Linked DNA regions of Homo sapiens: region 1 is reported to be linked to region 2. Evidence: microRNA targets listed by miRTarBase, many of them from high-throughput screens and not tested one by one. Region 2 holds a microRNA gene; the other region holds the end of a gene's coding sequence.

What was found. Region 2 holds the annotated microRNA hsa-miR-641 (AAAGACAUAGGAUAGAGUCACCUC, at 2,510-2,533, shown strand). A microRNA usually pairs through its seed, bases 2 to 8, with sites in the 3' UTR of a target mRNA and lowers its output. Matches are read on the target gene's strand: a 7mer-m8 pairs with bases 2 to 8, a 7mer-A1 pairs with bases 2 to 7 and ends in A, and an 8mer does both.
Region 1: the mRNA of ZNF106 is a reported target of hsa-miR-641. Seed matches in the 3' UTR shown: 7mer-m8 at 2,508-2,514, 7mer-m8 at 3,857-3,863 and 7mer-m8 at 3,998-4,004.

Annotation. Positions count from the first base shown.
Region 1 is chr15:42,413,033-42,418,104 of GRCh38, reverse strand. ZNF106 (zinc finger protein 106) reads left to right here. Exons shown (of 22, transcript NM_001366845.3): 21 at 154-300; 22 at 745-5,072. The coding sequence ends at 801. Among named protein-coding and RNA genes, the nearest start is that of CAPN3, 56 kb to the right of the region's middle.
Region 2 is chr19:40,280,062-40,285,135 of GRCh38, reverse strand. MIR641 (microRNA 641) reads left to right here and starts at 2,495; the gene lies at 2,495-2,593. All of the region lies in intron 1 of AKT2 (AKT serine/threonine kinase 2), which reads left to right. RefSeq lists a silencer at 1-256 and enhancers at 627-766, 4,388-4,507, 4,548-4,597.

The DNA of each region.
Region 1 (5,072 bases), not on the chromosome of region 2:
TTGGCTTTGTTGTCTTTTCTAGCCAAGAATAAATTTGAAATAAGGGGCTGGCTTTTTGCTTCCATAGTGCTTATGGGATCCAGCTGGGGGCTGTTCTGATTCACGTTCACTGCACCCTTTTTCACCGAGTCTCCTCATTTTCTTTCTCTCCAGTGGCATGGTTGCTCTCTGATATTTGGCGTTGTAGATCATTTAAAACAACACTTGCTGACCGACCACACTAATCCCAACTTCCAGACTCTGAAATGTCGCTGGAAGAACTGCGATGCTTTTTTCACTGCTAGGAAAGGATCCAAACAGGTACATTAGTGGGACTTGAGGTTTGCCTGGGATTCAGTAGACTGCTCAGAGCAGGGGCTAGCAAACCTTTTTTATTATTGAGAATTGCCATATATAGGGAGGGCCTAGGGTTTTTTATTTTTATGATTCAGAGATTTGGGGGGTAGCTTAATGAAGTTGCAAATGAAGAATTAGGTCATTTTTGAGAAAGGGCCTAAAGAGAATGTTTTCAGATGTTTCAAATCCAGTAACTGAACCTGGAGATTTATTACAGTGCTCTTGTGCTGAGACAACAGCTCACCTTTAAGTACATGGTTTCACGTAAGTTAGCAAAGTGCTGGCTCCTAACTGCCTTTCCTGTCTGGATCCTAGGTGGAATGGACCCACATGGCTTTCCTTGGCTTTGACTTTCTCCTGTCTTACTATCGACTTCTCTCTCATGGGCCCTTTTCCCTTCATTCCTAGGATGCTGCAGGACATATTGAACGACATGCTGAAGATGACAGCAAAATTGATTCATGAAGTTTTTTGCCTCCCACGTTGGGAAGTCATTAGTTGAACTATTTTCACATTGGCCCCCCACACAGGCCACTCTCTTCCCTTTCTTGGTGAAGTAAGGAAGGAGAAAGTGGTTACTAGCCAGGCATACCCCTAGCATAAGTCTGGGCAGCTCTATGGGATGATAAATTACACTTTTAAGTTCTTGCTGGAGGTTTTAAATAGATTTAGACAAATGTTAAGGAACCATACTTCTCTGGGACAGCATGGCATATAGTGATATATGCTATTTGCGTTCTCCAGATGTTTATTGAAGATACAGATCCTAATTGGTTACCCAGTTTGACCCTAATCATATGTATATTTTATTGATTTCAGTTTGCAATTTTTAATTTATGTTCTTATGATGGTTTAAACCTATAGTCAGGCTTTTAAGTACAAGTTTGTTTAAGTGCCAGACTTTGAGGATCAGTTTTAATTTCTCCATTTGTAATAGCTGGGTATTTAAACTGGAAGCAAATAGTTTTCTTTCTTAACAATTATGTGCAGTGTGTGTCACTGTTTTCTTGCTTTATAGATAGAGCTGGCTTTAAGTGCTAAAGGACACAGTAGATTTTTGACAAACAGTGGCTGCTCTGCTGACTATCTTTTAGGAATTCAGGAAGCAAATCACATAGTGACAAGTCCTTACAGACACCACTTCTAGTAAATCTCTGTAAATGTGGATAGAAAGCTCAGTGTGAGGCAGTGCGTAGACCTAACGTCTACCTTTACATCTGCTGTTGAACCTGGGCACTACCTGTTACAGATCCTGTCAGGCTGTTGAACTGGAGGTGTACCTTTATCTTCCTTTCTAGTGTCTGACCCTGCAAGCCTAATGTTGGTTTGAACCCTTTTGGTTTGTTCAGTTGCCAGCCTCCATCTCTCCCACTGTATGGCCGTGCCTAGACCGATGGCAGCCATCGAATATTCCTCTGGGCTCACGGGGTGTTTTCCACCCCCCTGCAGCAACTAAGATGGTGGGGGAGAGGGGGTTAGAATAAAGCATCTGAATACAGTTTTCAGGACCTCAAGCAGACTTCCTAGAGACTTGTTTCTGAGACAGTTCTTTGCCTTCACTTCCCTGCTAGCTGGGAAAGAAGAGTGGAGCAGAGACTCTGCCTGGCCACTGAGAACAGCCAAATTCACAAACCCTCAGTGGGGCTTTGTTTTTGGATTTTCTCCGGACTCATCAGTAAACCTGTAGAAGTGTCGCTTTCCAGCCTTTTGTTTCTGGATCCTCAAAACTCAGAACGTGGCCGGGCGTGGTGGCTCACGCCTGTAATCCCAGCACTTTGGGAGGCTGAGGCAGGCAGATCACCTGAGGCTAGGAGTTGCAGACCAGCCTGGCCAACATGGCAAAACCCCGTCTCTACTAAAAATACAAAAAGCCGGGCGTGGTGGGCGCCTGTAATCCCAGCTGCTCAGGAGGCTGAGGCAGGAGAATCGCTTGAACCCGGGAGGCAGAGATTGCAGTAAGCTGAGATCGTGCCACTGCACTCCAGCCTGGTGACAGAGTGAGACTCCGTCTCAAAAAAAAAAAAAAAAACTCAGCTTCTTCAGAGAGATAAAATTGGGGGAGGAGCCCAGGGCCACATACCAAGCTTTGGGACATGGTGCCTCATGCTCTCTGGGATTGCAGACCATCCAGGTCTGTCTTCGCCCCTGTTAGTGCACATATATCCACTCACATGTCTTCCCTCAGGCTATCGGGCAGGGGGACTTCACCAGGGGGTTTATGGATAGGCTTCAAGAGGGTCTGTGAGCCCCCAGAAATTGTGTGTGAGACTGAGTATGTGTTCTTTTTTCCAGGAAAGGCTCCAGTGGTTCTTACTTGATCCAAAAAATGTCAAGAATTAATCTAGGAGGCCGGGCCTGGTGGCTCACACCTGTAATCCCAGCTCTTTGGGAGGCCGAGGCGGGTGGATCACTCAAGGTCAGGCATTTGAGACCAGCCTGGCCAACATAGTGAAACCCCGTCTCTATTAAAAATACAAAAATTAGCTGGGTGTGGTGGTATGTGCCTGTAGTCTCAGCTACTCAGGAGGCTGAGACAGGAGAATCACTTGAACCCTGGAGGTAGAAGTTGCAGTGAGCCAAGATCATACTACTGCACTCCAGCCTGGGCGACAAGAGTGAAACTCCACCTCAAAAAAAAAAAAAAAAGAGTTAATCTAGGAGATAATGAATGGCCTAGTACTAGATAATATATGGCCCCACAAGCTCTTGACTTCTGTCCTTGGGGAAAGCCATTTTGTTAACCACACTAGTGAGATTTACATGATGCTTAATGGAGAACAGAGAAGATCTTGTTGCAAAAGGTGTATTAAATATTTGTGCTGTTTCTGTATGAGATTGAGAAGCTTTTCCCACCTCTCACCCCTATTTCCTATAAGGATATCCAGAGAAGCCAAACTGTTCTGTGGGTTTGGGAATGGTCATTTCCCGGGAAAATGCATCTGGATCGATGACTAAACCTGGCCCTTTTCTCTGGGCTGTAGTGAAGCCGCATTTTCACGCTGGCTGGCAGTGTGCTGAGAGCCTCGAATGCTCTGCGGCGTAGTGCCCTTCTGCCCTGCCTGACGATGTATCGAAAAGATGAGAGTGAAGGAGACTTTGTGCAGCAGGAAACGGGTAGGTGAGGTGTTGGGCAGTTGTGGGAACTTCTGAGAGTATTACAGAGTGGTAGAATCGGTAAGAACTCTGATTTGGACTTCGCTTTGGTGGAACTGTGTGCCTATACCTGCCTGTGTGTGTGCAAGTGTGCAGGTTCCTTTGTATGTATGTGTACGTGTGGGAACCTGTGTTTGTCATATTTTTCTTCATTTCACAAAGGCTTTTTTTGAAGCAGTGGCAGTATGCCTTTGTTTCAAGAACACATGAAATTCTTTTAACACCAGATTAGTGTGTTACCCCAAATGAACGGTTCTAGCCCTCTATTAAGAAATAAAGGGACCATAAGCATTTTGGCTGCTTATGGCTGTGTGTTACTACTTACAAGAGTCTTGAAAATTATACAGAACTTTGCCTTCTTTTTTTAATGTCTTCCACAATGTTGTGACTGATTATAACCCTGTTTCCCCTCAGAGAAGAGCTATGGCTCAGGGATCTGTGTTGACTCTGGCATTTAGTGGCTTTGTGAAGGAAAGAAACCATTAAATGACCTGACAAAAACTGACTCATGTCTTTAAAGTAGTTGAAGCCACTTTTAGAATGTTACTCTCGGTTGCTTTTGTCTAATTCTAATGGCTTAAAGCCAAGAAAACCATAGTATAAATCTTTTTGTGTACCTATGCTAGTGTTTAAATGGCAGTTCGTTGTGATAAAGTATCAGTCACTTCAAGTTTTCTGTGAAAGTTTTTAATTAGGTTAAAAATAATTTTGGCATACGTCTCTACTCAGTTTATAAAGCAGTTCCACACCATGCAAACAAAACTCTAACAGCAAAGGTTATCTTGACCTGATGTTACTTGAATCTGAGAGAAAGTCATTACTTACTACTGCACTCCTGCTTTTGTGGGAAAAATTTTCTTCTTCCCCAGAAGAGTTAACAGTTGAGTGTTCAGCTCCTGACTTACCTTTAATTTAGAGGCAATATTATTACTGTTTAAGTGATTATTTGCTTAACACAGGTTTTATTTTGTCTTTTTGCTGGTAGATTATACAAGGGACAACTTTAGTGATGAGGCATGTGGATGATTTGGTGGGAGTAGGTATATACTTAGTGGAATGGTTTATTTTATGGAAGAGAATTCATTGGAGGTGAGATTGAAGTATATTGTGAAGTGGGATTTGAACAGCACATATGCTCTGGTTTGCTCAAATAACTGCAGTTTATGCTTACATCTAAATTTTGTTTCTGTTACCTAAACGGGAGCTTCTAGAATTACGAAGGCCATACCTGCCACATTTATAAAATAATGGTTTTATCCCTGCCCCCAAATCATCAGGTTCCTCGGGTTTAAGAGAAGTGGTCTAATAGACAGGAATAGAAGTTGTGGTGGAGGTGATTTGGGATAGACTAGGTTTCCTTATGCAAGTGGATATGAGCTCCTCATAGAAACCAGACCTACTGTATTAGACAGTAACCTCTAACCTCACCTCCAAGCCCAAGTATATGGCCCTGCTGGGTTACCTGGTGACTACATTTCCCAGATTCACTCTAAATTCAAGGTAGTGACCCAAATAAATTGGGAAAGGAGGGGGTCAAGGAGGAAAAGCTGTTGAAAATCTTTCTCCTATTTAAGAGAAATATA
Region 2 (5,074 bases):
CGCGTCCGGGCCCCCCGCGGTGCCGCGATGGGCTGTACCACCCGTGCCCGGCGGGGGGACCGCGGCCCTCGAGCCCCTCCTTCAGGAGCTGAGTGGGGGTGGCCGAGCGGGGGCGGTGGGACCAGCCTCGGGGGGCCGGGGCGGTGGCGGCGGGCCATACCACTGAGGCGGTGGGGGGAGCGCTGCAAGTTTGCGGGACGGGGAGCGCAGGCCGCAGCGTGCGCGGGCCGGGGGCTGGACCTTTCGGGCGCGGCGGGCAGATCGAGCCTGGCGTGCGCGGGCTAAGCTATCGAGGGGGCGCGCCGCATCAAGTGTAGAGGGCTGTACCTTTTTGGCGCTGTGGAAGCCGTTGCTGTGCTGTATTTACAGGGGTGGGGGCTTCTGGGGAGGATGCTTCCCCAACTGTGGCTGGGTTATATCACCACGGCGTTGGGGGAGCCCTGCTTAGAACGTAGGGGAACCCAAATCAGAGGACTGTGATGTTTGTGATCTTTAAGGGACTGGGACGGGGCGGGACAGGCCCTAGTGGGTTTTAGGGGCGTATTTTGGGAGGACTGTGATGCCGATTGGTGAGGAGGGGTTTCTGTTTCCTGTATTTGACGTGTGTGGCGTTGGGGGTTTACACTGATCTCAGCCTTTATTGAACTTCTTAACGACTCTGGAGGGAACGTCATGGTTACTGGGGTGCTTTGGACCATGGAGGTGCTGCTCTGGATTCCATTACCCTCTCAGATTATTTACCAGGCAGTAACAGTTCTTTCCTTCCATAGGGGAGGGAGGAAAGCTGTGTTAGAAGTCACTGAAGTTGTCTGAGCCTTAACATTCTGAAGAGGAAGAGGGATTGGGCTTGGATTTGAGGAGCCGTGCCCCTGCACCCGCTTGTTAAAACTTGGGAGGAAGGAGTGTTTGGGGGAACACCTCTTCCCCCCAGGGAAGCTCTCTGGGGGCATCTTGATCTTGGGATTGTGAGGACCTCTTCCTCTCATTTGGAGACCTCTTGGGGCTCAGCAAGACGCCTGGGCTGGAGTAACTAGAGCCTCCAATGGGCTGCTTTTCAACTTCATCCACTCCTACCTTCCCAGAGAAGCAGCAGGAGTTCACTCGTGGGCTGAACTTGGTTGGCAGTGGATGTGAAGGGTCCAGGAACCAACGCAGACCACTACATGCTCCTCTGTCGCTGGCCACGAAGCTGTTTGTGTCTCCCAGTTACCAGCTCGGTCACACATCATGTTTACACTCCCCACCAAGGCAGTAACAGTTGGCCTTGCAGTGAGGCCGGGAGCTGTTTTCCCAGCTGTTCCTCTTTGCATAGGCCAAGGGGACTTGGAGTGGGGGTGCCCCTGGCCCAGCCTGGCCCAGGGAGGAAGGCTGCTCTGAAGGGCTTGGGACAGTCAGATCCCCCATGGATCTGGTGTCTTATTGTGGTCTGTGGGCTGGTGCTGGGAGCAGCCAGCCCCAGAGGTCTGTGGCCAGTGTCCCTGCTCCCTAGGCCAGATCATGACCTTGGCTTGCCCTGTAGCCTTTGCTCTGGGTCTGGAGTTCCCAGAGGACTGGCTGCAGTCCCTGATTGACCCAGCAGACCTGGGCTGGTGATGTGGTCAGAGGGGGCAGATGGTTGCCCCTAGTCCGCAGCAGTGACTTCCAAGCTGACTGGCTTCCGTGGCTCGTGGTTCCTGGAGAGAAAGGTCCCACAGTCTGTGAGGCAGCGGCGACTCTGTAGAATCTTTCTCCACTAGGGGTTTGTTCCTCTGGTCCTCTCCTGCCAGCTTTTAGAGGGTTTGCCTGATGGGGCTAACAGTGGCAGTGAAAACAGTAATCATGAAATTGATGGCTGACAGTAACTGAGTGCATTCTGTGGGCCACACACTGTTTGGAATGCTTCATATAGATAAACTTGCTGAATACTTGAATTCTAGAGCGGTAGGCGCTGTTGTTATGCTCTCCCTTTTAGATGAGAAAACAGCATCTCAGAGAGGCAGATCATTTCCAGAGCTAGTGGATGCCCAGTGTTTATAGCATTCACCCCATGCCAGGCGTGTGACAGGGCTTTTGTACATGTGATCTCACTTAAGTCTCAAAACATACCTGTGGTTAGGCCTATTTTATGGAGAGCTACGAGCTAGTTAGAAGTGTGATACCATTTTACAGATGAGGAATCATTTCACTCACTGTGAAGTGCAAAGATTTCCCAGAGGTCTCATAGCTGAAGTGGGAGAGGTGTGATGTGAGCCCTTGGCCAACCTTGGCCTCAGATCGTCTTGTCAAGGAGAAACTGGAGGAGTGGCTTTTGTCTGTGAGCATATACTCTGCCCAGCCCTGTGCTTTGGGCTTTATATGGTATTTGTGTCCTTTTTTGCAGAGTCCGAAATTGAAGTTCAGAGGAAGAATTGCCTTCCACCGCATCTTATCAGACCCTATGGGTGCCAGGGTAGGATTTGAACCCAGGTCACTGAGCCCCTAGTGCCATGCATTCCTTGCTCACCAGGTTCCAGGCTGGGTGAAAGGAAGGAAAGACATAGGATAGAGTCACCTCTGTCCTCTGTCCTCTACCTATAGAGGTGACTGTCCTATGTCTTTCCTTCCTCTTACCCCTGAGCCTCAGGCTGCCCTGAGCATCTCTGCCTACAGCCAGTCCAGCATTTCTTGGTCCCTCCTCAGAGTGGAGGCAAGGCATCCTTTAACCCTGGGCAGGTGTGTGCTGGGAGAAGAAGACAGCAAGAGAGCCATGCAGGGGGTGACACAGCTACCAGGGACCTGCGTTAGCTAGCAGCAGGACGGTGAAGTCGGTTCTAGCTCTGCGACCTTGGACCACACTGTTCACTCCCATACAGTGGTCTCAGAAGGACGTCCACCTTGGGCTGTTGTGAGGATTAAATGAATTAATCCACGAGAAGCTCCTAGAATGGTGCCTGGTACTGTGTAAGTCTTGGTTGGCAGTCATGATTATGTTATGGAACGGAGGCATCCAGCCTCCCCCACCCCCTACTTTTGGTCCCCTCGAGCATTCCGGGATCCAGCTCCCCAGCCTGGCCCAGCTAGGATCCAGAACTTCAATGTTCTGGTTTCCAGCCTCTGTAAAGAGGTGTATGGAAGCGAGTGAGAGCACAGGGTTCAAATCCAGCCGTGCCACTCCATGGCTGTGTGACCTTGAGCAGGCTCCCCAACCCTTGTGAGCTCATTTCATCATCGGTGCCATGGGGATGATGATAATTCCCACCTGATAGGATTATTGTGAAGGCTGAGTGGATTAATTTGTGGGAAGCATTCATAACTGTTCTGGCATACAATAAGCCTACCGGAAATGTCTCCTCACTAAGAACAGTGCCCGACACATGGTGAGCTGTTGGTCTGTCTTAGCAATTGTAATTCTTAGTATTTCTGCCGGGACTTTGAAGGCCTTTGCCAGTTCACAGAACCGTGTCAGAGAGCACTAGGAGGAGATCAGGGCTGAAATTAGCATCTCAGTTTTACAGATGCAGAAACAGAGGTCGGGGGAGACATGCAATCAAGTCAGAACTGACAAGGGCAGCTCCCGGGCCCACTCCTCTTCCACGCAGTGGCTTTGCAGCCCTGAGCGCCTCCAAGGTAGACACACTGGAGTCTTTTCAGAGGTCAGGCTCTGTGCTTGTTTTTTTTTTTCTTTTGAGACAGGGCCTCCCTCTGTCACCCAGGCTGGAGTGCAGTGGTGTGATCACAGCTCACTGCAGGCTTGACCTCCTAGGCTTTAGTGATCCTTCCACCTCATCCTCTTGAGTAGCTGGGACTACAGGTGCATGCCACCATGCCTAGCTAATTTTTAAATTTTTTGTGGAAACGGGAGTCTCGCTATGTTGCTCAGGCTAGTCTTGAACTCCTGGGCTCAAGTGATCCTCCTGCCTCAGTCTCCTGAGTAGCTGGGACCGTAGGTGCATGCCACTGCCCCTGGTTCCCAGCCCACCACAGCTCACAGCTCTGGGAGTGGCAGGAAGGCTGGGCCTGGGCAGGGGGAGCAGCAGAAGTGCCTGCAGGGGTTGGCAGGGGCTGTGCTGCACTGGCCTGTGGGCCTGGGTGAGAGGTGAGGATGGATCCTAAGGGTATTGTGGAGCCGAGGAAAAGGTTTCACTCATCCGCCACCATTTACTGAACACCTCGTATGTGCCAGCGTTGCATCAGTACTGGGAATACAGCAGTGTACTTGCCAAAGTCCCTATCCTTGTGGGGCTAAGCAAGACCAACCCGAAACAGGTTAATAAGCAAGGAGCCGGTTAGAGGGGGAGGAGCTAGGCAGCGAATTCAAATCAGGTGACAGACTGGGCACTTCTTTAGATGCATGCGGCTGTGGGGAGGGCCTCTGAGCTGATCCCAGTTTGGCAAGGTGAGGCAGTCATGTGGGATGGGAGGAGAAGGAACAGCCCTCCAGGTGGAGGGAACCACAGTGCAAAGGTCTGAAGGGAGGACAGAGCTTGGTGAGGTGCAGGGACAAGCCTCACGGAGGCCTGTGTGGCTTGGCAGAGCGAGGGAGCAGGGAGGAGATGAGTCCTGGGGCTGCGGGGCAGGCAGGGCCCTTTCACTGGGAGCCTTGTGGACTGTCTGTGAAGGAGTTTGGAATTTCAGCAGGAACAGCCTGGTCAGATTCAGGGTGTTAGCAGGTGACCCAGGAGCCGGTCACAGGCTCCTGCCTGGGGGCGTGGGTAGATTTGACTGAGCGGAGCAGGGCGTTTCACAGGCCTCCCACTTCCCCTCCAGTAGCATCACTGCCTTACAGCCAGCAAAGGCCTGAGGGTTGCCTCCCTCCTGTGGTTTTCACACCGTGTTCTCCAGAGCCCGTGGCTGTTACTTTTAGGGAAAGAGGAGGGGAGGCTCATTGGGCTGATTTCTCTGCCCATTCCTCCCCAACCCAACCAGCCGGACTAATACTGAATAGCAACGCAGGGCAGCAGTCACACCTGATACAGACAGCACCCGCTGACCCTGCGTCCACGCTGCCGTGGGCCTGTAGGCCTGCGCCATTCCCAGTGCTCCTCTGGAATTGGAAAGACCAGGGCTTGTGACTGGCGCCCAGCACCCAGGTCTCTGGTTGGGCTCAGGTGTGGTT